Linked DNA regions of Homo sapiens: region 1 is linked to region 2. Evidence: fine-mapped expression QTL. A gene starts in region 2. The other region holds a variant in brackets. All regions are shown on one strand. Distances are between the middles of the regions.

Region 1 (15,893 bases), 54 kb after region 2:
CTTGAGCAAAGCATTTAATCTTCAGCTTTCTCATCTGGAAAATGAAGGGTTGCATTAGATAATCTCAAGGGCCTCTTTCAACTGGGAACATTCTGTCCTTTCTTGATGCCACGCCCAAAACTAAAACAGTGTGTATTTCTCTCAACTGCCTGCTTCAATTGCCCATTAACTTAAGAAAATTCAACATAGACAAAAATCTGGAATTTTAAAAGAAATAATTTAGGGGATTTGTATTTGTGATATAAAAGTACCCTTTCCCTTACAGACATAAATTTCCTTTAAATAATTAACTATTAAATATGTTTTTACTTTATGACAATTAGATTTTCACACAACTTTTCAGGAATGCATGTTTGATAGCAAGTCAAGTGTACCCTCTAATAATTACCACCCTTGATTTTACTATGTTTCTCCCACTCCGAACTCATGTTTCTAGTCTTAGCAATTGTATTAATCCATTTTGCATTGCCATGACAGAATATCTGAGGCTGGGTAATTTACAAAGTAAAGAGAATTATTGGTCTCACGGTTCTGCAAACCATGCAAGAAGTATGGTGTCAGCATCTGATTCTGGTGAGGCCTCAGGAAGTTTACAATCATGGTAGAAGATGAAGCAGTAGTAGGCATGTCATGTGGCAAGAGAGGGAGAAAAATTGAGAGGAGGAGGTGCCAGACTCATTTTTTAACAATCAGATCTCATGGTAATTAATGGAGTGAGAACTCACTCATTACCGCAGGAAGGCACGGAGCCATTCATGAGGGATCTACTCCCATGACCCAAATACCTCCCACCAAGCCCCACCCCCAATACTGAGGATCACATTTCAACATGAGATTTGGAGGGTACAGATATCCAAATGATATCAACAAGCTCTCACCATAACTTTTTATCATTTACAATTTCTTATATACTTTCCATCTCACTTTCTCCTGAGTCACGTAGCTCAGCATCATTTTCTTCTGCATTGACTGCATCCTTTTTTTTCTTGCTTATTATCTTTTTCTCCTACCTTATTATGTTTCCACTGGCTCTTGTAGCTCATCCTGGAATTCCATGGAGTTCACTATGGGACATCTGTTCACTCTGAATGTCTAATTTAAGCTTGTCTTGTCTGTTCAGGCAGCTACAACAAAATACTGCATACTGGGTGGCTTACAAACAGTAGAAATTTATTTCTGACAGTTCTGGAGGGGCTGGGAAGTCCAAAATCAAGATGCTGGCAGATTCAGGGTCTGGTGAGGGCCTGCTTCCTAGTTCATAGATGCTTCCTTCTCACTGTGTCCTCTCCTGGTGAAAGGGACAAGGCTGCTCTCTGGAACCTCTTTCAGAAGGGCACTAATCCCATTCATGAAGATTCCACCCCCATGACTAATTACCTCCCAAAGGTCCCATCTCCTCATACCATCACCTTGGGGGTTAGGACTTTAACGTATGAGTTTTGGGGTAGCATAGACATTCAGACCACAGCAAAACTCAACATCAAAATGAGCTCTGCTCCTTTAATCTATATCATTGCTGCTGTTGTGAAACTCAAGTGAAGCTCCTCTCCACAATTTAACACTGAAGTTCAACCCATTCCTTGTTTTCTTCTGAGTTTCAATAGATGAAATAAACACTTTCTATATCCATAGGTAATACATGTCTTTACATCGTCACTGAGACAAATTAGCAATTTTATGAACAAGAAAAATAGGATTTCTCACTTGGATATATTGAATATATTAAGTACTTTGGAGAAAAGTGCTATAAAACTCTAGAATGTTATCATTGATTTGTTGTCAAGGAGAAAACAATGCTGTTCTTAATTAACTTCTCAAAAAATGTGCAGCATTCCTAAAAGAGAAAAGAGATCCATTTTCCATGAGAGGTCTCAATACTTCAAAAGCCCTACTAGAAATGTATCTCTTGATTCTGAATCTATTAAAGGGGTATATTCTACATTTTGTCACACAGGTGAAGGTCCTCAGAAATTTTTACATCTAAGTTCTGCGGGGTTTGGTTTTTATGTACCCACACCACAGTGTCACTTGTCAGGCCATTTTCATAGCAGAAATCCCATTTTAAGGTAGGAAGTTGATTCAGTATGGAAATAAAATGTATCATTTTTTTTCCATTAAAAGTGGACATCTACTTCTAGGATTTACTTAACTTGAAATAAGGCTGCAGTCTGTGGTGTCATTCCTAATACGACATTTCCAGCATTTTCTCAAAGTGTTAAGGTTTAACTCTCATACCAGCTTGCAAGGATCATTAAATTTAAAGTGGGAAGGCCCCTACAAAATTATCCAATAATTCCCACTCATTGTATAGATGAGAAAGCTAAGGCCCACAGAGACTAAACAACTTTCCCAGAGTCACACAGGAAAGACAAAAACTCAAATGTCTGGAATCTTAGACCAGCGCTTCCTTCCCCAATTCCTTTCCAGGATTCCATTTTGATTTTGGTCTCAGTTGTAACTTTTATGTCAGCAATTCAAGAGCTCTTATGTTCTAATAAGATAGCCTAGTGGATGGCTGTGGCAACAGAGAATAACAGGCACATACATGTTTAAAGAGACAGCACCCTGATATAGGTCCAAGAGCAATGAGGTAGGTCTCTGAAACTCAAGGTTCTTTCTATTCATGGGTTGCCATGATCAAGTTGTTTAGCCTCGCTGGGTCCGACTGTCCTCAGCTGGAAAATAGAAAGCTAAGGAAGAGATCAAATGAAATAGGGTAGGTGGAAGCAGCTGGCACATATCTGTGTTCAATAATATTTGTTCAGTCTGAATTGACCTGATAATTCAGGCACCCAAGGGCAGCATGGGACCTAGAAAATCACTTTAATCCTGATTCCTTTTCTCAACAAATTATTCCAATGCACCCATTCAGTTAAGAAATATTTATTAAGCACCTACTATGTGCCAGCCAGGCACTGTGCTTGGTTCAAGGATAAAATGGTAACAGAAAGACATGGCTATTTTACAGATTGGTAGAAGAGACAGAGAACTAAGCCGCAACGACCTGCTGTGATGACACAGCACAGAGGAGGGGACCTTAACCCAAACCAAGCAGATGTGGGGATGCTCCTCAGAGGAAACCACCTGTGAGCTGAGACTCACAAATAAGGAAGAGTTACCCAGATGGAGGACTAGGAAGAGCATTCCAGGAAGATAAAATACAACATGAAGATCCAGAGGCAAGAGAGTTTAATACTCTAGAGGAAATGAAAGAAATTGATTATGTTGTGATTAGAATGTGAGGGTGGGAGCTGGAGAAGAGACTGGGGCCAGGTCTTACAAGCCACTTTAATGCACTTGAAGCTTATCCTAAGAGCAATAGAAAATTTCAAAGACTTGTAAGTAACAAAGTGAAACAATTATATAAATGGTTTTCTTGATGAGGAATCAGATTTTTTTTAATTTTGAGGGTTTCTTATTGACATAATTATATCTATGCATATTCATTTCCATATTTAAATAACTCCTTCTCATTTGCCCCAAATTCATGTAAAGCATTTCTCAAATTATATCCACCACCATTGGACCTTCACCTTTTAAACAAAAATTACTAGACAAATTGCTTACTTTGTATTCAAAATGACAGCAGGGTCCATAATTACAAGTGACCAGTCAATCAGGATGAAAAAATCCTTAGGAAATAAATGCATGCACTGCAAAACTACAGTTAAAACTTTCAGCATTCAAATGAAGAAGAAAAGGCAGGAATGATTGGGATAGGAAACCAAAGAATAAACAGATGAAAGAAAATGTGAAAATATATTCTAAACAGTGAGCCTATTAAAATCACCACACCCAGCCAATTTGCAAGAGGCAGGCAGTTCTGAAAAGCTGGAGCACCATGAATTAGCTTTGCCAGATAAACTAGGTCTTGCCAAGCAAACTGGGACCTCAGCGGAAAAAAGATAAATTTGTGTTTGCCAGGAGTGATGCCATGACCAACAAACTTTTCCGAAACCTCAGCCTAGAATTTGGCTCTGCCAGTGCACCCAGTGGTGAATCAAGACCTATCCCCTCTGCATTTGGGGGCCAGGAGGGAGCATTACACTTATGTATCAGAAACCTCTGTGAATGGGAGAGCCTGGCCTAATTTCAGTTGGGGTTTGTTTTCCATTATAAAAATCCATGAGCTATTATACTTTCTAGCCAGCTTTATTTGAACATCTTCTACACACTTAACAACCTATAAAGCAAATAGAAATAGTAATCATTTGCAGCAATAGAGTATTTTTCCCTCTAAAAGCCCAAAGCTTCCGATTTTGAGCACAGCATTCTTTGGGGAAAGCACTTCTCTCAAGCTGAAGATTTTATTTTGTCAAATTAAAGGATTTATGGTCCACAAACAATGGGGTTGGTAGCAGATGTAGGAGAAAGAGTTGAACATCAAGAGGCCTTCGGGGTTAGAAATATGATGGCTGTTTTAGGAGATGGGAATAAGGAAAGTAGAAAAGCTCTTTGCAATTTCTGTTAAATTCTAACTTTTAGCACTTAGTTGCTTAATTGCATACATTATACACAACTTTTTAACATTATGCATAAAGCACAAGTTTATTGCCCCCAAATTTGGAACATATAGATAAAAAAGAGAAAATATAATTCCACCACTAAAATAGAATCTCTGCTAATACTTTTGTATCTATCTCTCCAAATTTATTGCTTTAGCTCTCACTTTCTCTTTACACATAACTATGCATTCACAGCCTCATTTTTATGATATGTACATTTATATATCCATACATATGTTAAAATAGGATCATACTTCACATACTATTTCTGAATCTTTTTATTCTTAACAATTGTGAACATTGCCCCTTGGGCTAGAAGCTTGATGAAGGTTGGGATTTTGCTTGTTCTTATGCATTGCTGTTTTCTTTTTCTTTTTTTTCCTGGTCTTTTTTTATTTTTTAATTTCAGTAGCTTTTGGGGTACAAGTGGGTTTTGATTACGTGGATGAATTGTATAGTGGTGAAGTCTGAGATTTTAGTGCACCCATCACCCGAGTAGTGTACATTGTACCAAATACGTAGTTTTTTATCCTTCATCCCCCTCACTCTCCCCCTTTCTGAGTCTCCATAGTCCATTATACCACTTTGTATGCCTTTGTGTACCCATAGCTTAGCTTCTACTTATCAGTGAGTTTTGGTTTTCCATTCCTGATTTACTTCACTTAGAATAAAGGCTTCCAGCTCCATCCAATTTGCTGTAAAATACATTAATTCATTCCTTTTTTAAGGCTGAGTATTATTCTGTGATGTACATAGACCACATTTTTAAAATCCAATCATTGGTGGATGAACACTTAGGCTGGTTCCGTATCTTTGCCACTGTGAACAGTGCTTCAATAAACATATGCTTGCAGGTGTCTGTGCTGTTTTCTTAGCATTTAGGCTAGTAACCTTCCTATGGTGGATACTCAATATCTATTGACTGAATGGATAACTATTCAGTCATATAACCTTCCTATGGTAGATACTCAGTAAATGTCTATTGATTGGATGAATATAGTTTCATACGAGTCAAGTATAAATATTTATGCATGTGGTATATCAATATATAATACAGTATAAATAAACACACAAATACAATTAGTGTCCTAGTTCTGGCATCTGTATGCGCTAATCCTAACCACCCCAGGTCAAACGCTGCCCTTCTATCAAACCCTCCTCAGGCTTCCCTCTGGCTCTCTCCTTCCTCCTCTCAGTGCTTCCTCAGACTTCCATAGAATATTCTTTACTTCTTTTTGGCACTTAGCACTTTCCATCTTGCTTTATACATATTTAGTCCATGTTCCTCTGTCTTGATACAGTGCAGCTTCAGGGTGGCATCTTTGTTCAGTTTATATTTGTAATAATAACAAAACATAATTCTATGTATGTATTATTTAATGTGTGTCAGGGACTATACTAAGTGTTATATGTCCATTATAACCTTTAATATTCTAAATAATCCCATAAAATTGGTATGATTATCTTCATCTTATAGATGAGTTATCCGAGCCTTAGAAAGCCAAAGTGACTTGCCCAAGGCAGAGATGAGCCTCATGCTCAAGGCTGTCTGATTCCAGAATCTGTGCTTTGGATCCACTATCTCCACAGCCTCCTTGCCTATCATCTCCCACTCCCAAGTCATTTGCAACAGTGCCTTGTGTAGATGGTAGTAGATGTCCAATGAATTCTTGTTGAATGAATAAATGAAACATAGATAACAATTGAGCATGTGTTGGTTACTAATGGAAGTGTAAATCCTGAGACTGAGATGTTTATGTAGCTTGGTGTGGGGTCTCAGAGGGAAGTAAAAGCACAGATTTGGGGAAATAGTCCAAAGTGGTTCATGGAATTTTCTCCTATTTGATAGCCAGGAGACATGAGCACAGTGAGTCTTTGTCTAGACAAAATTCAAGACAATTTGGAAGGAGATGCCAGTCCAAACACAAGTAAGAACTTGATGGGAAAAATGGTGCTTCTTCAGAAGGGCTGATGTGGTTGGGAGTAATAATTGAATAAATAAAAAATTGGGGACTTAGAATAGGAAAAGTGAAAGTGAGAGTTAAATTAACAAATAATTAGAAATGAGAACATTGGGATAGTGTCAAAAGGAAGGGAAATACAGGGAAAATTCTAGAATCTTGAAGTAGTCAAAAGAAACTTGCCACACTATCAGAATGAGTCTTCATTCACTATAAAAAAATGGAGGGATTGACATTGTAACAATTTTCTTTCCAGCCCCGCTAGCTTTGAAACTATAGCAGACACTTCCAGAGCTCCACCTGTATCCCCTTGGCCCTTACTAGTC[G/A]GTCTGACTTCAGGAGACCAGCACCTGCCTGCCTCTGCCTGGAGCCCACGTGGGTCACAAACCCAAAGGGTGAGAGCATTAAGCCAAGCAGCCCTCAACCACTCACTGGCAGGAGCTGGTGGGTAAATACCCCAGACCCCTTGCCACTCTGATAGAATAACTTGGAGGTACACATTGCACACTACCTCCCAGAGCTCCCCAGAGAGAATAGACTTCATTGCCCCGTGGGAAATTGCTTGATACATATATTTTCTATTGGCTCCTTTATCTTCCCTGTTTCACTTTCTCAATACTCCATCAGTATGTCCTGGGATCACTTCCCAAATAAATTACTTGCCCTGAAATCCTTGTCCGAGAGCCCTGATTCTGTAGGAGGAAGCAGGACACTCTTTAGGAGCAGAACATATACATAGATGCCCCTTACATCTCTGCCTTCTCCCATATGGCAGCTCCCCATTTAGGAATGTTAGCGGAGAAAGGCAGTTAAGAGACCAAAGTCTTGACAATACAGAATGTGAAATCATTTCAGAGTTTGATTCCCTCCTTTTAAAAAGACAAGCCAAAATTAAGTAAGCCCTATGTTTCAGAGCCCCAGCCCCAACACATTTTCCCAAAGCTTTTTTAAAAATGTAGGTCTGCAACTAAATGATATACAGAAAAACCCAATGGTCATATAAGTTTAGGAACTGTTGGGTTAAACAAAGTCAAGATTTTTACAGCAGGAATTTTTCTGACCTTTTGTATGCTAATGAGGTACTCAACATAGCCAAAAGGGGGTTACAGTATGGACCATCAACCAGATTATTTGTTCATGAACCTCTGAAGGGGCCAGCGGGCCACAGAACACACAGAAGGAAACCCTGCCTACCTCCAAAATAATCCATAGATAGCCCATTTACAGTTCAGTCTTGTCTCTCAATTCAGCCCCAACTGCAACCACCCTTTCCTCTTTCTGCCTCCATCTGTGGCCCAGGCTTCAAAACAAAAAGTTCTCAGAATTCTTGAAACTTCTTTGCATGCTGCCTGGAATACCATCTTCCACTTTCACACCTGGTGAAATCCTCTTGGTTGATCTTTCCAAATCCACACAGAGATTACTTGCTTTGAGCAAGTTTCCTCAACAACCCTCTTATTCACCTTTGTGTTCCCATGATTTTGCACAGGACCTAGAACCTACATAGCAGATACTTGTGTGAATGAATTAAAGGAGCATGTGAGTGAAATGAGGTATAAAGAAGTGACGTTGGACAAATCATTTATTTGAGTTCAAAGCAAGGAATAGAATGTGGTCCTCTCATTCATAGCCCACGTTCATCCTCTCTCCACATCCCAGAAATCAAAGATGTTATTTGGAGAATTTGATGATTCTTTTTAAAAGTTGTGGTAAAATGTACATAACATAAATTTTACCTTCTTAATCATTTTAAGGGGACAATTCAGTAATATTAAGTACACTCACATTGCTATGCAAACAATCTCCAGAACTCTTCATGTTTCAAAGCTGAAACTGTGTATACACTGAACGACAACTTTCCGTTTTCTTCTCCCCCAACCCCTGACAACCACCATTGTACTTTCTGTCTCTAATCTGACTACTCTCGGTACCTCACATCAGTGGAATTATACAGTGTTTGTCTTTTTATGACTGGCTTATTTCATTTAGCATAATGCCCTCAAGATTCATCCATGGTGTTGCACATACCAGAACTTCCTTTCTTTTTTAAGACTGAATAATATTCCATTATATGTGTATCCCACATTCTGTTTATCCATTCATCCATTGATGGGCACTTGGGTTGCTTCCACCTTTTGGCTATTGTCAATAGTGCTGCTAGGAAGATGGCTGTACAAATATCTCTTCAAGACCCTGATTTCAACTTTTTGTGTGTGTTTGGTGACTCTTTTTGGAGCACACTGAAGTTTTAACATTTTCCTTTACAATCAGAAGGGTGCTAAATAATAACCTAAACTCATGCTTGGTTAGCTATTGCCAGAAGCATAAAACCAGCAATTACAAAACACTGTGTCAGTTAGGACTTTTTGATTACCTGTGACAGAAAACAACTTGCAACAGCCAATGAGGAGATTTATTGGAAAGGTTTGATGATATCTTGTGGTACCCAATGAAGTGTCAACCCCACAAGAAGAAAGGCACTCCTGGGCCTTAGGAACAGCTGGAACCATGTGCCCTCTGGATCCTCCATCTCAACATCTCCTCTGTGCTTGCCTGCTCCATTTTTCTCACTGCACACTGGCTCTACCTAGAAGAAAAATGGCATCCAACTCCCCTTACTTTTGCATCTGTGGCTACAGCCTCATAAAGAGACTGGACCAATTCTTTCTCAGTCCCAAATCCAATATCTCATGGAAAAGACTCATTGTCCCTATTTTTGTTAAGCTCCCATTCTACCAATGTTGTCTCTAGGAAGGCATAGTCAAATTGTACAAAACGGCTGCTCCCAGTTCCAGGGGATTGATATGCATATTGGGGAGGGCAGGCAGGTACCAAAATGTCACAAGTACTGAATGACCATAAGTCTACCAGTGCCTCAGTAGAAGGACCACAGGATGGAAGGCAGTGGGGTGAGAAAGTCTCCAAACACCCACATCCCTGATGAACACTCCCATGAGGTAAAAGGGAAGGGATTTTGCAGGCAGCAGTGAGTTCTGGAGTAGAAAAACACATTAATCAAAATCCTGTCTCATCAACTAAATGAATCCACAGATAATGAGGCAGGGAAAAGGCCTGCTAGCCCTGAGATCTCTTTAGACAAGGTTTTTGTGTCATGTGGCAAGTCCAGCAAGAGACCTGAGAAAAGGAAAAGGAAAATTAGGGTTCCCACATTATCAAGCAAGGCCAGAGGCCAAAATTAAAAGGAAATAATAATGACATCCAGAAAGATCCTGGACTGTAACATTTCCAGGAGAGAACACCCAGGCTCAGGTACCTCTGAGACATCTTATGCGATAATGAGTTGGAGAAATGCAGCTGGTCACAGGAAGTGGAAAGAATAGACTAAAACTATTGCTAGGAATCAAAGCTAAACCCCACATCACTAAAGCCCTGTCTCTAGTAAAACGTTTCTCCTGTTTGTTCATTGATTCTGAATGTTAAGTAAGTCTTTCCGGCAGTGGTTCCAGGGTGCTGAAGCAATGACTCTCAGACAGCAAATGAAAAATGAGGGCTGCAAAGTTCAGGCAATAATAGAAAATTAAATCTTAACTGAGCTGCTGTAAATATCACAACCAGAAAACAGAGTGCATCAGCAAACTGCGCTGGCAGGGAGGGTAATGAATTTCTCCTCTCCGGGCAAAATTTATCAGTGGTGCATAATAGAGTATTCTCGGGTTTGGAGGTGAGGAAGGGGTTGATGAGGAAAGAGGGAGAAAGAAAAACAAGCGATATTTGTAAATTAAAGTATCTCAGCCAAAGCCAACAGCCCAGCTCAAATGACCCTTCTATAGTAACTCACCTAATGCAAACTTCCACAGCCCATAAGCTGTATCTCTTGCACTGCACTCAGCATTTTAGGTTATCTGTAGTTATTTGTAGATATGTTTTATCTCCACAATGAGATTATGAACCCCTGGAAGGCAAGGGAGAGGAATTGTTTCCTTTATCCATCTTCATGTACCCCACCACATCCAGAAGAACTAGTATTTATTGACTCTTTCAACGTGCGATGCACCGTGTGAGATATTGTAGTGTCATATTCCCATGAGGTCCTTCCAAATACCCTGCAAGGTGAGGAGGACTATCACATGATACCAAAGAGGAGACTGGGGCTCAGAGAGGTAAGTAATTTGCTCCAATTCACACCATGACAGAGCTGAGATTTGAACTTAAGTCTACTGAATTCCAAAACCTATATTCTTTCCTACTCGATATACTACCCAGTTGGCAAATAGCGATCCTATTTTCCAATATGCATGCTGATTTCTCCAAACCACATCCTGTGGCAGATGTTGTACATATATTATCTCAATTACTCTTCACCACAGCCCAGGAGTTTGGTAGCATTATTAGCCCTATCTCGCCAATGAGAAAACTGAGGCACAGAAAGGTTGACAAAATCATCTAAAAATCGAATGGCTTATAGTAAGTGGTTGCATGAAGATGCTGACCCACCCTGCCAGACTCCAGAGTGTGTGCTCTTAGTCATCATCCTATGTTGATTTCAAAATAAAAAATAAACACACACACACACACACACACACACACACATCCCACATCACATGTTTTGAGCAACTCCTTTGTGCTAGGCTAGGCAAATTTTGTAATTTAACCCTTATTACCATCCTCATAGCAGAAGCAAGTATTCAATAAAATATAAAATTAATGAATAATGGAAGATAAAAATAGAGGTGCAACTGTTATCAATTGCTAAATTAAAAAAAAAAATCCAGAGACTCCTCTGTGTTTGCATTGGTAACACTATTGGCCACAAGCTATGGAGGACCAGGGGAAATAAATGAGTATTAGAAACGAAGACAAATAAGGGCAATCCAGACAATAGAAAGGAAAGGTTTTCACTTGAAAAATGAGTGTTCTATAAAATCAATAATGGCCCATCCTAAATGAGACAGGTCTCCTTTGTTGCAATAGCATCTTAAATGAACTGTTAGAAAATCAGCATTTACAAATAAAACAACAGAAATCTCCAAGTTAGACTCAATTTTATATCAAAAACATAACCCTGTTAAGTGGATGACAAATCTTCTACAGGCTACATCCAGATGAATTAGATAATGATAATGGTAGCCTTAGAAGAGTAGAGGGACTCAGACAAAAAATAACAATGCCCTGTAATCCCAGCACTTTGGGAGGCCGAGGCAGGTGGATCACTTGAGGTCAGGAGTTCGAGATCAGCCTGGCCAACATGATGAAACCCTGTCTCTACTAAAAATACAAAAATTAGCCAGGTGTGGTGGCACATGCCTGTAGTTCCAGCTACTTGGGAGGCTGAGGCAGGGGAATGGCTTGAACCCAGGAAGTGGAGGTTGCACTGAGCTGAGATCACACCATTGCACTCAAGCCTGGGCAACAGAGCGATACTCCATCTCAAAAATAAATAAATAAATAAAACAATGCCTTGGTTCTACTCTGGCTTTTCCAGCTTTCTCAGTCATTTGTGTTCTCCACCAGTTGTTTCTCTGCCACCCTAGAGGTAAGCATGGCCATAGAACTCAGTTGGGCCAATGAAGTACGACCAGCAGTGATGTGTCACTTTCAGGCAGAAGCTTAAAGAATCAGTGCATGTGCATGGTTTGCAATGCTTTCTCTTCTTTTGTCATGATGACGGATGATATTCTAGAAGGCATTTGTCTGTCACCCTGCATCACCGAGTATAGATGACAAAGAGCAGAGCCCCATGCTAAGCCACAGAGGAAACTACATGAATGAGGGGGAAAAATGTTGTTTTAAGCTACTGAGATTATTGTTGTTTATTATTGCAGCATAACAGCCCAATCTGATCAAAATATGAACCTCTAACCCTGGGTAAGTCATTTTATCTGAGTAGGTATCAGCGTCCTCATCTGCAAACCAAAGGAATTTGCCTAAAAGAGGGGTCATTAATCTGGGAACCCATGAGTGGGCTTCACAATGACAATGAATCAAAAAAAGGTAAGAGTGTGTATACATGTGGATGCGTGAATGAGAAAGAGAAAGGGTGCCATGGCATGTGCCTGTAGTCCCAGATACTTGAGAGACTGGGGCAGGAGAATTGCTGAAGCCCAGGAGTTCAAGAACAGCCCAGGAAACTATAGTGAGACCCTGTCTCTATTTTTTAAAAAGAGAGAGAAAGATAACAAGCAAGACAAAATACACATTTTTCTTGAGAGAGGGTTTATAGCTTCTTCAAATTTTAAGAGGGTCTGTGTTATTAAAATTAGGTTGAGAGCCTGAATAATCTTTAAGGCCATTTCCAGCTCTAATGTGCTTTGTGGCTTCTATAGCAGGAAAAAAAGTAGTTAATTAGGTTCCTCTATGATCTGGTATTTCAGGACTTGCCTTGGGTCAGATTTTATTAAGGTTGTTTTCCAATAATTGCGTTTAAGAGTTACGCTTAACAGAATTACAAATATCAAAATCTCAGGAGGTATTCCTGAGTAAAAACAGGGGATTCAGAGTAATTCTTTTAACCGAAGAAGGAGAGGTTCTTCAACAATTGAAAACAAAGACCCAGATTCCATTTGGCAGGTAGGATAGAGCTGGATCGACTCTTCATAGAAAGAAGGGGGCACTCCTCCAAAAGCATGTCCCCACACATGCGCGAGTGTGTGAAAGGCCAGAGTGTAATACTTCAGCTGAAGGCCATGGGCTCTTTTTAACATGAAGGCAGTGGGGTAGACACAGTTCATAGAGAGAGCCTGAGTTTTATGATGGGCATCTGCAATCTGAGTTCAAGCCCAGAGTTACGAGAGTATTTCAACATGCTGTTGGGCTGGTTTTCTCATCTATAAAATAGGGACAATAATATTCAGCTCTAAACGGAAGAGTCTCTGCAGCAAATAGATACTACATGCAAGGTTATTGAGGAGAGTTTCATGAGGGACTATTTACAAAGGTGTGCACAGAGTTAAGAGAAACCAGTGAGGCGTGCTGAAGCCTCTGGGACTGGTTAAAGCAGAGAGCCTTTTATCATTCCCACAGCTGAAGGAGCAAGAGAAAGAAGGGTTACTTTAAAAAGGAGAGAGCCATAGCTGGAGCTATAGGAAAGGGCTACACAAAAGAGCCCTGGCCTTCCAAGAGAAACAGATACAGCTCCTCTTGGCCCAGCAGGGAGACAGCCAGAGGGGAAAACACTTTGATCATTTTCTCTTCTCATCCTCCCGCTGGTGCCTCACCTTGGCCAAACCCAAGCAAAAAGCAATGGGCAAGGGAGCCTGTTGACATGGTCATAAAAGTCAGTCTCCTGTGGCAGAGAAGGATGGAGAAGGGTGGGGAGAGGATGTGGAGAAGAAATGAGCATTTGAGCCTATAGAATGCTGAAGTAGGCTTGGCCATGCCATATCACTATTGGTCAAAGCCCATCTCTGCTCTTTGTAACCAAGCATCTTGCCAGGCACAGCTGATGAATTCTAGTTCCTTCATAATCTGAATCTGACTTCCTTTCCATCGTAGTGCCCACTGTTCACTTTCATCTACTCTGCAGAATTACTATGGGAAAAACACATTTATGTACATTATCACTAATCCTCTTAACAACTCATCAGGTAAGCATTATTTTCCCATTTTCATGAAAGAATAAAAGCTCAAATAAGTGGATTTCCCTTACCCACCATCACAGACCTGCTATGCTGAAGAACAATAATTCAAATCCAGATCTATTGGACTTCAAGGTCCACATTCTTGTCCTATCCCACCCTGCAAGGCTTTTAGTCCTAGCTTTGATTCTAATTATTTTGTACCCTTCATAAGTCTCTCACCTTTCTGGGCCTTTTGCTGTTTTATGAGAATGATTTAATTGTACCTTTCCATGATATTGTTGGGACAAGATGAATGTAGTTTCCAATGACTGTGAAACTATCTACCTGTTTCTATTCTTTGTGAATCTTGCAATGATTACTTTTTTTTTAAATGAGACCCAAGCATTTTCTTTGATTTGGAATTGGAAATGTGTCTGCCTACTCTTAAGTCAACAGAAAGCCCCAGAGAGAGGAGTTTCTAGCTATCTATCTATCCTATCTGTCTACGCATTTGCAGATTTCTTTCTACATCTGCTCTCCGAGACCTCAGAAGCATCTTCTCCTTACAAATTGCTGCCAAAATGTCCTCTACATTAATAGTAAGTTTCTGGAGTCACCATCATCATTAGCCTATGATATTTAAGGCTAGTTTAGTTGCACATTCTAAGCTCTAAAGTAGTCAGAAACCTAGAAAAAGGAGTCTATTTTTTCCTATTTCCTGGATCCCAAGTGTGTTCAGGTGGCTAACATCAAGCAGGAGAAAGGCAAGCTTCTGTGACCCAGGAGCTGAGCTGCATCAGAGAACCATCCTTCTTTCTAGAACAAAATCTTAAATCAAGCAACCCTACAGCACAGGCCCTTCCCCCACCCCTGAAGTATAGGTTTTCATCTTAGACAAAGGAAATAATTGGATTCCTGTACTGAGCTCTGTGATCTACTGCTGCCAGCTGCATCACTGTAAAACCATTAACTCCTTGCTGAGCATTTTATCTCTGCAACAGGAAGAGGTAAAAAGGAGATACACATTGTTTAGGCCAAGTGAAAGGAGAATATTTTTTAAGTGGTGCAGTGTAGATCCCAGTAACATGGCATCCATTTCAACCAGCCTGAAATTATGGACAAGCTTTAAGGATGAAAGCCAGAGAAATTGGAAGAGAGCAGATTTCTGCCTTCAAGAGCAACCCGTACATCACCCAGGGGTTGTAGGGCGTCTAGAATTCCAGCATGAGCTGCGTTTTTCCCTCCCTTTGACTCTTGGCTTCCACATTCTTCTCTAATAGGTCATAGCCCTTCAAGTGAGAAATGAAGCCAGTCACTCCACTTCCTCTGACTGCGTTTGTGCCTCTATGCACTGGGGCTTTAAATGTTCATGAGATCCTCTCTCAGTGCAATGTCAATTAAACACCTATAGCTGGAACAGTAGGGGCTGGAAAAATGCCAAGGCAGATACAACTGAGACTCCGTCCGGAGAAGCCTTCAACAGAGCACTTGGAATTAATTCATAAGAAAAGGTTATAGGTAAATGAAAAATACTGACTGACAAATAGGAGTAACTTGAATCTACCCCTCCCTGGGAACCATGCAACAGGAACCCTCACCAGGCATCTCACTGCAGTTATTTGTAATTATCTTTCATATGAAAACAAGGCCCAATGAAAATTAACTCTTCCTTTCAGCTTAATGATTTAAGGCTCAGTCAGATTTGGGGCTGATGAGAAAGCCTTGAGGATGTGGCTAAATATGAATCTCTCTCCAAACTCTCTTAGACTCTCCCCCAATGTTACCTATGCAACACACACTTGAGTCATGGAAGTCAGGACAACTTCTCTCTCAAATAGTATGTTGGATCCACACAGACAATAGATCCAACAAAAGCCCAAGATTGAGCAAAATAGCTAAAGTTTGAGGAA
Region 2 (15,893 bases):
AATGAAGCAGAAAGCAAAGCATTCTTGACAACAACCAATAATTTATAGAGAAAAATGTATCATCTGCTGGGATAGACTACACACTAAGTATGAAACTCAGTGTTATTACTTTATATCCACACCTTGTTCAGCCACACAAAAGTGAGATAAGGCTTACCAGTGCTTAAACTAGAGCCAAATAAGAAAAGTAAGGTTCTTTCTCTGGTTGGAATGAAGAGTAGATGGCATAACTATAAGCAAAAGAAAACCACACTCTCCTTAGGTCCCCAAAAGCTGTTTTGGAAAGCTGTCTGAGTTAGAAAAACTAATGTTTATTTATAAAGTTTATGATGTTGATAAAAGACACATCAAGTAATAGTAAGAATAACATCAGGTTACATGTATAAAGTGCTCACTCTGTGTTAAACGTATTAATGTATATAGTCTTCACAACAATCTCATGTGATAGGTACTTTTACTATCTCAATTTTATAGCCAAGGAAACTGAGACATAGAGAGGATAAATGACTTTCCCAAGCCCACACAGCTTGAAAGAGCAGAGCCTGGATTCTAATCCAAGTCACCCAGCTCCAGAGCTTATACTAACCACGAGGCTTAAGCCGTTCTTCATGATAAGGAACTACCTTTGAAGGGGCAGAATGAACCAGGAGCACGTAGGAAAACACTTAAGGATATGTTTGTGATCTAATACAGTCATTCAACAGGTTCTTTCATTCAACAAATATATATCGAGCACCTGCTATGTGCCAGGCTCTTTTCTACACGCTGAAGATCACAGACGGGTGGGATCCCTATACATCTGAAAGAGTGAATACATGTTACATGGTATGGCATAAAATGTAGTGTTTTGTGGCTTTGTTTGGCCCCAAACACTGCATCTTTGGAATCTGAGTTCTTCCACATGTCTGAAATATAATTAGCTCTCTGATGAAGAGTTTCCAACACAACAAAGTTTCAGAGTTTAGAACCCAGAGTGGAGACAGGGATGTTTCCTCCAATGCTGGAGGAAAAAGAACTGGTGGAGAGCCAAGGAGCTGAGGCAATGTCCAAGGGCTGCCTGACTTGGTCTGTGTAGGAGGAGGCAGCACTGGATGACCTCCAAGGCCCAGCTCTAGGATCTGGGTTCCCAGGAAGCAAGGCAGAAGCAAGGCTGCCCTCAGGCACAGCACAGCACAGCCATGCTCAACCTGAGAGCAGTCACAGCCAGGGCAGCAGCGGGAAATGGCATGTGATACTGCAAGTGTAACTAGGTCACATTTCTGGGGTCGACCATCTCTCCCAGAGGGTGTCAAGGAACATCCCTGACTTGTGCCGATTTCCAGCCCCCATACAATGTGGGGATTGTACTTCTGCTTAGAGAGCTCTAAGAACAACCTGCAGACATAATGCAGGACCAAGTAGCCCCATGCAGATGAGCATAACTCGTCCCTGGCCTTATGAACTTTGTGATGCCAGGGTGGGATGCTGAATCAGCCCTCCAAAATCAGGAAAGGAGCTGTAGTCTGCAGGAAGAAGACTGGTTCTCCTCTCCCAGGAACCTGGGATCCTTGCCAGATTTGTGGCTCTAGCTGAGCCTCAAGAAATAGCAGGCAGGATTCATCACTGTTAATAATAACTGGCACATGACTGAGTGCAGAACTGAAACGCAGATGGCCAAGGAGCTGAGAGTGTCCTTAAAAGAGAAGGGACAAGTTTGGGTGAAGGAAAGGGTATCAGAGAGACAAACACACATGTATTTACACGTGATTTCGGGACATTCTACCATGCCCCCACCCCACCCCTTCATGATGCCCAACCCTGTAGCCCACCTGCCTGCCTCAGATGCTATCACTCACTCCTGGGTACAAAAGCCATCCAACCTTTTTCTGTATTAGGCGATTTCTCAAACCCTGACTCCTACCATGGAAAAACAATGTAGGTCTTCTCTGCAACAAGTGCTTTCAATTTCTCTTTTTACTTCCTGTTCACCTGAGACATTTCTGCAGCTGCCTTCCTCTTCCAGGTAGCTGAGTGTTCCAAACTCCTAATTAAGGGGCAACACCTAGACTTGGCTTTACCCTGCCTCAGCTCCTCAAGTGGCTTCCTCACAGAGTTCAGTTAAAGGTGCTAAGCCACAATGTCCAAAAATGAGAATGAAGCCAATATCCACTCAATGATTCTTTTGAATTGTGCCTGTTTGGATGCAAGGCCAACCGCATGGTCTCCAAGAATCCTCAGGGCAAAGGACCTCTGCCCCCACAGCTGGCATCAGGAAAATGGAATAAGCAGCCCCGATTTCAGCTGAGGACTGCTGCTCAAAGGGGTTTCCAGATCCTCTGAGCTGTGAATAAAGATGATTTTTTTTATAGGATAAATGAATGGAGAAAGATTTTCACAGGATAAAACAGAACCCTGGCTGGGCGCGGTGGCTCATGCCTGTAATCCCAGTACTTTGGGAGGTCGAAGCGGGTGGATCACTCAAGGTCAGGAGTTCAAGACCAGCCTGGCCAACATGGTGAAATCCCATCTCTACTAAAAATACAAAAATTAGCCTGGGGTGGTAGCACATGCCTCCTGAGTAGATGGTACTACAGGTGCATGCCCCAGTTACTCCAGAGGCTGAGGCAGGAGAATCACTTGAACCCGAGAGGCGAAGTTTGCAGTGACCCGAGGTCACGCCATTGGACTCCAGCCTGGGCAACAGAGTGAGACTCCTTCTGAAAGAGACAAAACAAAAAACAAAAACAGATCCCTTCTTTGCCGGATTCAATTCAAACTTAAGATTTAGAAGTGAGTTCAAATTTGAGTCTGACATAGTATCACTTCCCTTGACAAGTTAGGGAAAATTAAAATATTCTACAAAAAGAATAGAGGGAGATCAAGAAAGCAGGACAACCATGGGCAAAATGAGAAAGTAGACAAAACTGGGTTTCAGTGCCCGATGCCCTGTATGGTGCACCTGGCATTCCCTGGGGGAAACTGCCATTGGGATAAATAACCCAAGCCAACACAATGCCTGGTCAAAACTTACCTATTCTGTGTCCAGTGGAGATAAAGCATATTTTAAAGTGGCCATGAAATAGAGACACTCGAACTGTAATCAGGGACATCTAGGGACTTAATACTGTAAATCAAAGGCATGAACCTCAGAAACTATTTCAGGCAGCAAAGGGGATATTTAGAGACAAGGAGACTTTTCCAACTACCTCCAGATTTGATTCTCCTGTGATGAAACCCCAGTTCGCAGATTTGTGTCCCAACTTACCTTCCTTCTCTGGCCTTTTGCATTGTTCTCTCCACAATAAATTAACCTACGGACCATGGACATATAAGAAGTGCATCTGGCACATATGTTTATTGCAGCACTATTTACAATAGCAAAGACATGGAACCAACCCAAATGCCCATCAGTGATAGACTGGATAAAGAAAATGTAGCACATATACAGCATGGAATACTATGCAGCAATACCAAAGAGTGAGTTTATGTCCTTTGCAGGGACATGGATGAAGCTGGAAGCCATCATTCTCAGCAAACTAACACAGGAACAGAAAACCAAACACCTCATGTTCTCACTCATAAGTGGGAGTTGAACAATGAGAACACACGGACACAAGGAGGGGAACTTCACACACCGGGGCCTGTTGGGGGTGGGGCGCAAGGGGAGGGAGAGTATTAGGACAAATACCTAAAGCATGCGGGGCTTAAAACCTAGATGACGGGATGATAGGTGCAGCAAACCACCATTCACATTTATACCTGTGTAACAAACCTGCACATTCTGCACATGTATCCCAGAACTTAAAGAAAAAAAAAAAAAGAAGTGCATGTGGGCAAAAGTCTCTGAAACCCACTACTTTCCATGGTGGATCCAGTACATGAAGGTGAATGGAACCATGGAACCAGTTTCAAAGGGTTTCTGCAGGAAGAAGTGCATTTGCAGAGAAGCTTGTGAACAGCTTGCCAAATTTCAGCCTGGAAGAATTTTATTATCTTTAATTTACCAACCTAGAAATGGGCTTATAAGGGAAATTCTTAGCGATGTCTTCTTAGGCAACCACAGCAACTGCCACACACCTACCTCACTGCCCTGGAGCCTGCAGTACACTGTTACGTCCAAGTTCTGGCCTTTGACAAACTGAAGCTGGAACAACTGGAGCCTAACCTGCCTGCTCCACCCTGGAGTGCTCAGAGGAGAATGAATTAACTTCCGCCAGCCAACCCAGTAGTCCCAGTCCTGAGCCAGAAAGCAGTGGTTGTTAGAAAGAATGCAGAAAGCAAAGCCACAGTGCCTTCGTTATACTATTAAACTGTAATCACCTTTTTCTATAAGCATCTTCCTGTTTTCCCTGAAGGGGGATGGTTTAACTGCTGTCCTGGGGCAGAGGTGCCAACTCAGCAGAGAGACTTCCTGTGGGTCTGGGAGGCAGTTGTGTTCAGCAGGCTGTGGCATGCCCACTGACCAGAGGCAGGCTGTGAGGGGGCCCCCATCCTGACAGAGGGCCGGAGGCAGGAACTCAGAGACTAACTAAGGCTCCTGGCTTAAGGAATGATGTTGATTTCCTTTTCTCAGGGCCAGCACTAGGATGAGGCAAGCCAAGTGCTTAGGGAACAAGACTTAAGTAGCTGTTCACTCTCGGGTCCTGCAAGTAGCTCCTTCACCCTAGTGCCAGACCTACTCAGAGCCAACAACAGCACAGGTTGTGTGTGTGTGTACACAGACTGTGGAAGTCGGCAGTTCTCAAAGTGTAGTCCCGAGACCAGCATCATCAGCATCACCTGGGAACTTGTTAGAAATTCTCAGGCCCCCTGAATCAGACACTCAGGAAGTGGGGCCCAGCAATCTGTGTCTTACAAGCCCACCAGGTGATTCTGATGCAGCTGAGGTTTGAGAAGCCCCGTGCTGGAGGAGTGTGCTCTCCAAAGCCAGTCTCGTGGCATTTCTAAGGCCATCTCCCGCAATGCTTCCATACAGCCAGTATAGGGAAAGGGTGAGTGGCAAGATTACAGAGACTTTCCTAAAGCCATCAGCAAGATAGGAATCCCTCGAATAATAAATCAAGAATTGCTTTTTCCCAGCCACCCCTAAGTAGACTGTAGTAGTCAAGACTTGGCAATTGTTGGATAAAGATGGAGATTACTACTGAACCAGTTCCTTCCTGTTTCTTCCTAACTAGACACTCAGAGTTAGCCACTCAGTGACACTGTGATATGGACTAGCCATTTGAATATTCTATGGCTGAGATTCCTTCCTCTGTAAAACGGGTCCAACATCACCTACCTGTGAGGGTCAGAGAAGCTAATGTATGCAGAACCCTGAGTAGAAGCCTGGGGCAGAGTGAGCTGTGGTGACAGTTCATACATCTAACCAGGGGTTCCGGGCTCCATCCTCCCCCAGGGAGCGAGGTGGGAGGATCTGCGGCCTGAGGACAATTGAGTGGGGAAGGAGGTGAGCTGGTTTCATCTAGGGTACCATGTTTTTTAAAGAAGGCTATTTTCCAATCCAAATAGTCTGTGGGCATCAGGCTTCACTGGTGGTGACAAAAGAGAGAGAAAGGAAAGAAGGGACACCCAGTGCCGCCTGCCATTGGGTACTGAGAACCACACTTTAAAACAAAAAACAAAAAAAACTATATAAAGGCAAGATGACACTTCAGAAGACCCCACATTTAAACTTTGTCCTTGGGACCCAAACAGTATAGAGTAGTAAGACAATGACCACCAGTGAGACAGGGACCCCAGGCATTTGGCAGTGTACATGGTTTCTTTTGTCCAGGGCAGGATTACAAACAGGAGTGTGAGGATGAAATCATGCAGCAAAAAACACTGTCAGGGTCAAGGCAGACGTGATGTCTTAGCACTGACGTCCCATCACAGAATTGTGGAACCATTTCTGCAAAGCTGAAGGAGAACTAGTCCCATGCAACTTTTCCCAACTCACAGACATGTCTCCTGAGGACCAGAAAGGTTGCTGGCCTGCAGAGGCACACAGCTGGTGTGCCTGCAGAGGCCCACAGCGGAGAACAATCATTAGCTGTGCTCCGTTTCTCCCTTCCATTAAGGAGTGCTGGGGTGAGACGCAAATTTTAAGCTTCTACCCATAGGCCAGGTAAACAAAGGGCGGCCTCCCGCCCGCCCCGTTCCTGCCTCGGCCATCCCTTGCAGCACAGCTGAGGGCTTGAAGGAGGATCCATGACTCACACTTTTCTTGCCGCGGAGAATTAACTCCAAGATAACATTACCCATGTGGGAAAAAAAAGCAAGCCATCAAGGAAGAAAGTTCACTTCGCGCCCCTCTCCACCGAGCCTCCTTACCTTCCTCATTTAAAATCCACGGCAGAGAGGCCAACACGGAGTCAAAGCCGCAAGTGCTCTCTTCAAAGGCACAGGACCCAGCGGGCAGGTCGAGGGCACCGGCGAGCTGCAGGGCTGCGGGCACAAAGCGAGTTTCAGTTCGAGCTCCACCCAGGAGCCTTTGCACCAACTCGGGGAGCCCCAGGGGGACTACCTGGTGAAAGTGGGGGAAAGACGAGCGGGAGGGGGCGGGAGAGGGATGCAGTACCTGTCCCCCAGCATCCCCGGGCGCCTCCACTGAGCGACCCCACGCCCACCCCCACCCCCACCCCAGGCTTGGCCAGGGGAGGGAGTTAGCGGCTGCGGAGGATCAGGAGGCGCCCTCGGATGGCCCAGCCCAGCACGGTGAGCCGGACCCCCGGGGGCAGCAGGAGCGGGGGCGAGTCGTCAGAGCGCCCCCGGGGTTGTCCCGGGGTCCAGGCCTTACCTTGCAACGCCAGGAGGACGCCCCTTAACAGCATGGTCGCGTTTCAGGGAGGATGACTAGGAAGGGGTGCAAGTTGCCAGCCCGCTGGGACTGGCTGCTCCTAGTGAAAGGGATCGTGGGAGGCGGGGGCGCCGGGGACCCAAGGAGGGAGAAGTCGAGAGGCAAAGCTTGCGCTCTGAGCTGCCCAACTTTGCAGAGCGGCTCCCGGAGCCGAGCGGTATGCTGGAAGGTGCTCGAATGGAGAGCGCCAGCGCCCCGGCGCTGAGCAGCAGCCTCAGGTCAGACCGCGGCCCAGCTGGTCCTGGGCGACGATGGGGCTGGACAGGGAGGAGACAACTGCACACTTTGAAAGGCCAGCCACGACTGGCTGGGAGAGGAGAGGTCGGCCCGCAGTGCCTTCGCTCAGGATTTTAAAGCTTGGGACCAGAGCCCTTGCAGACACTTGGAAGGGGCAGGCCTTCCAGGAGTCCCTCCGCTGGGTTGGGACCCGAGGCTCCCGCCCCGCCCAGCCGCGGTGGGAACTCGCTTATTTCTGGGGACAGCTTCCCTGCATCTGGCATGTCAGTCCCGCAGGGCTGGCCCTAATTTTAACTTCTTCTCCCCAGAATGAAAGAGGGTGGAATTCTCCAAGGACAGCCTGGAGGAAAATTTGGAAACGGTTGGGTGGAATAAGCTTTATATCTAAGGAGTTTCAGCGTTTACGGTCCAGCAATGCTAACCCTGGAATACCACCCCCACTTTTTTTAGCCGGTGGAATGTCTGGCATGCCTGGTGCTCAGCATTCCCTCCGTCCGGTGAAATGGGGGCATTCCTTCTCTCCAAAGAGCCATGATAGATTGATTAATGGGAGGCTTTACACTGGGAGGGGGTTGTTGGGGAGGGAGTTACTTCTGAGGAAGCTGTTTGCTTTGGGCACTAAGTGGGTCTCCAACAATATTCTTTTCTTGTAAAGAGTTCTTCTTCCTCCCCTCCTCTTCCTCCTCCTCCTCCTCCTTTCTCCCATTTATAATTTTGTGCAGGCAATTTTGTGAGGAGGGCAGTGGTTTTAAAACCTGAGGGTGCATCAGAATCTGCTGAAGGGCCTCACCCTCCGTTTCCGATCCAGTAGCTCTGGAGTGGGCCTGAGAGGCTGCACGTCCCTAATAAGTTTCCAGAGGCTGCTGCTGCCGCAGCGGGTTTGGAACAATACTTTGAGGACCACTGGCCTAACAAACTCCAGTTGAGCCATCAGTTCAACCTGCTCCCATGCCTTCACCTGGCTTCCAGACCGCTGGGTTTCCTGGTCTTTCATTGGCCGCCGCTTCTCGGCCTCTTTGCGTTACCTCTGTAACCCCTTAACATGAGAGTGCCTCCAAGTTCTTCCCTGTCACTCCTGTTTCTTTCTCTATCCAGCCCCTCAATGCTGTCCTCAAGTCTCATAGTTTTAGATACCAATGATAGCCTGATAACTCCCACATTTATATTTCTAACCCAGACTACTCACTAACGCCAGACTCTTCGATCTCATTGCCACCTCAACATTTCCAATCGGATGCTTCAGAGCTATTTCATACTTAACAGGTCCCAACATGAAGGCTGCATATTTCTTGCCAAACCTGCCCGTCCCCTGTGTCTTCCTCATCTCAGTAAAAGAACTATTTTCCTCCAGTTGTTCAGGAGAGAAAACTTGGAGGCATCTTCAGCTCATCCGTTCCTGTCAGACATTGCCAATTTCTATCAGCTCAGGATTCAAAACACAGCAGATGCTGACCATGCTCTGTGCCCATGGTGGTGATGCCTTGGTTGGTCCAAGCTGCCCTTGCCATCAACCTGGGATACCGCAGTGGCCTCCTGACCACGGTCTCCCTTCATTTTCTGCCCTGCCCACCCTACTCTATTCTGAACACACTAGTCAGGGTTATCCTTTTAATACAGAAATTGGGCCATGTCACTCCTTAGCTCAAGACCCAACAAGTTCCCAAGTCATTTAGTAAAGTCCAAAGTCTTCACGATGACCAACCAGGCCCTATAGGACCTGCTCCACCCTTTTCTTTCTTTTCTTGCTTTCCTTCTTTTTCTTTTTTTGAGACAGAATCCCACCCTGTCACCAGGCTGGAGTGCGATCTCTGTTCACTGCAAAGTCCACCTCCCAGGTTCAAGCAATTCTCCTGCCTCAGCCTCCCAAGTAGCTGGGATTACAGGCGTGTGACACCACGCCCAGCTAATTTTTGTATTTTTAGTAGAGACAGGGTTTCACCATGTTGGCCAGGATGGTTTCAATCTCTTGACATCATGATCCACCTGCCTCGGACTCCCGAAGTGCTGCGATTACAGGCGTGAGCCACTGCACCCAGCCCCACCCTCTTATTTCTCTGACTTCAATCACCCTGCTTACTCTTCTCTAGCCACACAGACCTCTTGGCTGATCCTCAAACACAGTCCAGCTATCCTTTCAGAATTTTGCACTGGCTGTTCTTTCTGCTCAAAATGCTCTTCCACAAAGAGCCACACAACTCACCGCCTAATGAGGTCTTCACTCAGATGTCACTTTCAGTATTAGAAAATTAGTAACCTTCTCCCTAATAAGGAAAATATATCTGGAATCCTTTTTTAAAGGTAGGAACAAATTTTCATGTGTTTTCTGTAAACAATGATTCAAATGGTCAAAAATTTATTCATTAGTGTGTGCTATTTGGTGTATATGTATCTTTTTTTATTTATATGCTTTGCCTCAGGTAGTAGCTAATAATAACATTTATTGTGTTTACCATTATAAATGTTTTATGTAGATAATCTCATTTAAGCTTCACAAAATCTCTACAGGATAAATATGTTCATTATCCCCATTTAATAGATGGGGAAACTGAGGCACAGAGTTCAGTGACTGTGGACAGTAGAGACAAAACTCAAACCCAGATCTGCTTTATTCCAAAAGCCTATTTTCTCAACCAGTACAGGACTTCTCTCACTTGGGTCTTATATTCTTTTTTTTTTTGACTTCTTGATCACAGATGGTGCTAAATATCTGATGAATTTCATCACACTACTTAACTAAAAATTCAAAGACAGTTATACATTCAGTCGAAACCTCAAAACATTATTTTCAACTAAAGAAGTTTTCAGCAACAATCAAACTGGTGCTCCTTTTTCCAGATACTTAAGGAGTATTTCAAAGTTTTAGAATTGCCTTAGATTCATGTCGTATGTTCTAAGTCATAGGAAAATGAAAAACTTCAAAGCCCTAAAGAGATCCTTCCAAAATTTAAAATATGATTTACAACCTTAACGTGACATTGTGTATTGCCACCTATGGGAACAGAATCATACATAAGTACAAACTCAGACCAAATTTTCTATTTTGCATATAATTGTTTGATCCCAAGAATATATGATCCTTAGACATTGGCACAAGTTAGAATGTCTGGGAAGCAGACTCTGATTTGAAGTTTAATGTGCAGGGTGTTTAATCAGGAGTACCTTGGGATCAGTGCCATGGAAGGGAGGGAGAGGAAGCAGGAAAGGGTGGAGGGAGAATTGGAGTTGCAATGCAAATCCCACAAAGCTTCTTTCAATCCCCCAAGGAACTATGGAGTTAAAATGGCCTATCTAACTTGTCTCATGTTAGGCTGAAATGAAAGGGCATTTGTACTGCTGTCTCCATCTGTCACTGGTTGTGGCCTATGCTGGGACAGAAGTGATCTCCAGTGAGGCAGCTCTCTGCACTGGGGAGGATCAGAAGTTGAAGGCCGATGACAATACTCCAAGCCGCTGGGACTAAAAGTCATTTCTTGAAGGGGGATCTGGACAGCATAAAAATGCCTACCACAGACGTTTTGCAGAGAAAGGAAAAAATATTGTATGTGGCCTAAGTCAGGATGCAGGGAAAAAGACTGAGGAGGGAAGCCAGAGAATCTAGAAACTACGTCAACCAACTTCCTTTGGTCACTAATCATAGCACCCACATGGTACCCTCTTATTACTTGGGAAAACAGGATCAGGTCCCAAGGAACCCAGAATGCTATTCTCCAAGATTTAGCTTAAGCAACTGATCAAATAACACATATCAAGTTCTGGCTTACAGAAAGCACTCAGTACTTAGGTATTGTAATAGGTTGAATGGTGGCTCAAAAGATACATCCGTATCCCAGAATCTGCAAATGTGACCTCATTTGGAAAAAGGGACTTTGCTAATTTAATTAAGTTAGGGATCTTGGGATGAGATCATCCTGTATTACCAGGTGGGCCCTAAATCAATGGCAAGTATCCTTATAAGAGTCAGAAGAAAAGGCACAGACACATGTAGGAAATGGTCACGTAAAGATGGAGATGGCATGTAAAGAGATTGGAGTGATGCAGCCCCAAGCCAAGGAATAACAAATTCTCCCCTAGAGCCCCAGAAGACTGTATTCTGCAGACACCTTGATTTGGGGCTTCTGGCCTCTGAAACTGTGAGTGAATAGCTTTCTGTTCTTTTAAGCCACCCGGTTTGTAGTAATTTGTTCTGGCAACCATAGAAAACTAATATAGAGTGCATTAAGTAAACACATGCCAGGCACTTAACATGCATTATCTCATTTAATCCATGCAATATCCCTATGAGGTGAATATCATTATTGTCCCCATTTTATAGACTAGGAGACAGGACCAGAGGGGGTCAATTAACCTGCTCAAAGTCACACGTCCAGCCAGCATGCAGCAAGGATTTGATCCCAGATGCCCACTTCTCCTGGCTATCCACTATGCTGCCCCTAAATGCTTCCTCCTTACACAGGCCTGTCTCTCCTAATGAGGGCTGCCTACACCACACACAGACACTATGCCCTGCTCTCTCTGTGGGTTCCTGTATGATGCTCACCTCTCACAGAGCCTGCCCATCCTCTCTGCTCTTTGCCAATCTGTTCCTTGCGCCCTCCAGGTACCTTTCACCAGGGGCTCTGCTCCTTGTTGTACCACTTCTAGCCTGGAGATCACCAAGTTCTTGCTTCTAATTTTCTGGGTCAAGGTGAGGAAGATGAAGCATTGCTGCTCCTCTCTATCCAGTGTCTTCCCACATAGCCAGGTGAGGCATTGGGGGGTGTGAGCAAATCTGTGGGAAGAAAGCAAGAAAGCCAGCATTTATGATTGCACCTTTGACTGCACTACAGAGGTTAGCCAATCTCAGAGTCTGTCTTTACTGCCCACTTTCCCTTCTGTTTTCTTTCTCTCCTTGTTAGTCTCACGCAGTGTCATGCCATGATAAGCTCAGCAAACATTTCCTGAGCACCTACTGTGAGCCAGACACTATGCTAGGGGCTGGAAATCCAGGGGTCAAGAAGACACATCCTCTGCTGCTGAGACAGGAGACTGACCCATGAGACAATAATTTCAATAAAATATGTGGATGAGATAGAATTAAGGCTGCAAATATAAAAAGTCTAGAGGCCAAGGAAGTCACGTAAATGAATGGAGTGATCTGGTAACACGGAAGAAATAGGGAGGGATGGAGACTGTGGTTAACTGGAGTAAGTAAGTCCAACTAAAGGGCATTACAGAAACCATCTCTACCCCAACTGCTCATGTTTCAAAAGAAGCCCAATATTCAGATATGTATATAACAACTCCTGATTTTCAGATGCCATTCCATTCCATTCCATTCCATTCCATTCCGTTGCATTCCATTCCATTCCTTTCCATTCCAATCCACTCATGTTGATTCCATTCCATTCTATTGCATTCAAGGCCACTTCATTCCATTCCATTCCAATCCATTCTTTTCGGATCCATTCAGTTTAAATGCATTCCATTCCTTTCCACTCCATTCCATTCCATTCCATTCCATTCCATTCCATTCCATTCCATTCCATTCCATTCCATTCCTCTCGAGTTGATTCCATTCCATTCTATTGCATTCCATTCCATTCCATTCCATTCCATTCCATTCCATTCCATTCCATTCCATTCCATTCCATGCCACTAGAGTTGATTCCATTCCATTCTCTTGCATTCCATTCCATTCCATTCCATTCCATTCCATTCCATTCCATTCCATTCCACTCGAGTTGATTCCATTCCATTCTATTGCATTCCATTCAATTCCATTCCATTCCAAGAAATTAAAACAATATACTCAAATCCCCATGGGGTAGAACAAAATCTATTGGGAGGTTAAATTCAATTCTTGAGCTGAAGTTTGCAGCATTATGATAGAACCACGGAGACAGAGAGTAGGGTGACTCCCTCCTCACTCCTCCAGAGGAGGTAGCCAGGCACACGGGAGCAATGCCATTCTACAGTAGAGCAAATGGAGGCAGAAAAAGTCTAGGTGACTTTTAACCAAGGCTGTATGTCTCTAGGGCAGTGGTGGGATGAGAAGCCATTAATTATCTCACCTCCTAGTTGGCCAGTATTTGGAAACATGGAAAGGACTTTGTATATTCTAGGTCTTGCACAGATGTAAGGTAATTAATAATAAAATTAGTAACATCTTTTGTAGTTATTATACCTTGTTGCATTCTCATTTATCTCATATATATAATCTGTTTTTCTTAATACCTGGGTCTCCTTTAATCTATGCCAAGTCATTGTCTCTGGATTTTTGTCTTTGTTTCTGCCTTTCTCTCTCACTGTCTGATGTACTTTGTATGGGCTCACCTCTATCTCTGTCACTCTACACTGAGTGGTTTTTTTTTTGTTTTGTTTTTGTTTTTGAGACGGAGTCTCGCTCTGTCGCCCAGACTGGAGTGCGGTGGCACAATCTCCGCTCACTGTAAGCTCCGCCTCCCAGGTTGACGCCGCCGTTCTCCTGCCTGAGCCTCCCGCGGAGCTGGGACTACAGGCGCCCGCCACCGCGCCCGGCTAATTTTTTTTTTTTTTTTTTTTTTTTGTAGTTTTAGTAGAGACGGGGTTTCACTGTGGTCTTGATCTCCTGACATCGTGATGCGCCCGCCTCGGCCTCCCAAAGTGCTGGGATTACAGGCGTGAGCCACCGCGCCTGGCCTACACTCAGTGTTTTTAAAAAAATCTTTGACATGTTTATTGGAATTACATTAAATGTGTACATTGATTTATAAAGATTGATATATTTACCTTGGTCCATTGATATAAATTTTTGTGTTTTCCAGTAAACTTTTAAAAATATCTTCATGTGAATTTTACCAACTTTATTCTAATTTTATTCAGAAGAAAAGACCAAATATGCACTCCTGCAGTCAGTGGTCTGTGTTGCTTCCATGTCGTCTCTCTCTCTCTGCATACACCCAACAGGCCCCCACTCATTACACACAATCAGGCTAAAACGAGATGGCAAAATCATTCCAGGCTCTGGGCTTGTCCTGCCAGTGACCTCCGTAGTTGCATTCCAGCAGGAGGTAACTGAAGGCTCTGCCCCGAGGCCAGCGATGGTCCTTGGTTACTGTCCAGCACTGTTGGCCTCTTACTCCCAAAGAGCAGTCATGTGCCTGCTACGGATTTGAATCATCTCCCATGATGCACCAAGACCCAAGGGACAATCAGTCCTTACAAATCTCCTTTTATTACAAAATATATAGCCCACTGTTCAAACTGCCACAGTCAAATGACTGAACCCATAAAGTAGGTACATCTTCTAGAGTGAGCATTTTAAAGGAAATAGATACTTCAATAGATGCTTTCTATCATTAATCTTTTCTTCATCAGCTTACTCCGGATCCTAGCTGGGAGTCAGACATCCTTCATTACAGCTTGAATGCAACCTTCTAATTTTTTTTAAATTGAGGTTTTCTGGGCTGACCAGTCACAGTGATAATACTACCATGTTTTGTTAAGTGTCTGTGATGTGCCAGGTGGTTTCATGGTAAATTCATGGAGGAAGAAACTAGGCTCAGAGATTTGATGTGACTTGCTCAAAAGTACAGGGCTGGGGCGGGAGCCAGCTCAAGCTCCTACCAAAGCCCTTATAACCTCAATGCCATCCACCCAACACAGGGAAGGTGTGAGCAGAACTTTGAAATGTCTGGTTCCCAGGTCCCCGGCCTCCTACCTCTACCCACAGGCAGTGCTGAGGCCAGGAAGACCAGGGGCTTGGAGAGGGGCGTCAAACAGATTCACCCACAGCCCTCAAAAGGAACAATCCCCGACACCAGTGCCACTGATCTTGGTCTTCTGGCCTCCAAAACAGTGAGATAATAAAAATTTCTGTTGTTTAAGCCATCTGGTTTGTGGTACTTAGTTACTACAAACTAATATATTTCTATTCATTTCTCAAGACCCAGTTCAAATGGCCCCTCTCCTATGTTGTTGGTGTGCCTGTGCTGCAGCATGTATGATGCTGTGTCCTAGGCTGTGCAGGCTGCTATAACAACGTATCATACACTGGGTGGCTTATCAACAGCCAAAATGTATTTCTCAATTCTGGTGGCTGGGTGTTGGGTAAGGGCCTGATTCTTCACAGATAACTATTTCCTCACTGTATCCTCACATGGCAGAAGAGGCAAGGGTCTCTCTTGGGCCTCTTTTATAAGGGTGCTAAATCCTATTTATGATGGCTCTGCCCGCATGACCTAATCACCTCCCAAAGGTCCCCACTTCTAATGCCATCGTTTCATGGGTGAGGATTCCAGCATATGAATTTGGGGCAGACATAAACATTCATGCCACAGAACGCTGTATGACAATGACTTTGTCTATGTCTCTGTGTTCTGCGATAGAGACTGAGTTTCAAGGGTAGAAAGCAGAGCAAGTGTGTTTTATCTTTGTATCTGCTCCTGTGCTATCTCTATACATGGCTAATTGTAGTCGCTCAAAAGATGTTTGTTGAAGGAAAGTCTAAGGAATAGCATATCCTCATTGGTCCACATGGCCCAAGAACCAGCCTAAGCTGCAGTCCTATGAGTAGAAGAAAAAGAACTACATTTAAATTACCCAGGGGAATATGTATAAAAATGAAATCACAGGTGTGTTCTGGGAGCACAGAGCCAATCTGAAGAGGAGCAACAGACTGAACAGGGAGTAAAAGCAGGCTTGCGGGGGTCAGGGCAGCACATTTGGCAAACCGGAGAAAGGCAGACTCTCAAAAATCCACTTTCCTGAGAGGCAGATGAGGCCACAGAGAGAGAACTTAACCTCTGGAAGGAAGTGCCAGGCCTTGGATGTTGGAGGGAAATAGAGACTATGAAACAGCTTGGATCCTGCCACCTGA

Evidence for each region. PIP is the estimated chance that this variant, and not a neighbour inherited with it, causes the effect.
Region 1: its variant is fine-mapped to the expression of MAMDC2 in lung (TOPMed, PIP above 0.99). The same link has a PIP of 0.9 or more in fibroblasts.

The regions. Positions count from the first base shown.
Region 1 is chr9:69,981,246-69,997,138 of GRCh38, reverse strand. No RefSeq gene overlaps it. Among named protein-coding and RNA genes, the nearest start is that of MAMDC2, 55 kb to the left of the region's middle. The variant G/A (reference allele first, on the strand shown) is at 6,793.
Region 2 is chr9:70,035,099-70,050,991 of GRCh38, reverse strand. It overlaps MAMDC2 (MAM domain containing 2), which reads right to left and starts at 7,144. Exons shown (of 14, transcript NM_153267.5): 1 at 6,761-7,144; 2 at 6,295-6,408. The coding sequence starts at 6,794. It overlaps LOC124902179 (a long non-coding RNA gene), which reads left to right and starts at 6,951. Exons shown (of 2, transcript XR_007061571.1): 1 at 6,951-7,038. RefSeq lists a silencer at 6,865-7,159 and an enhancer at 12,165-12,682.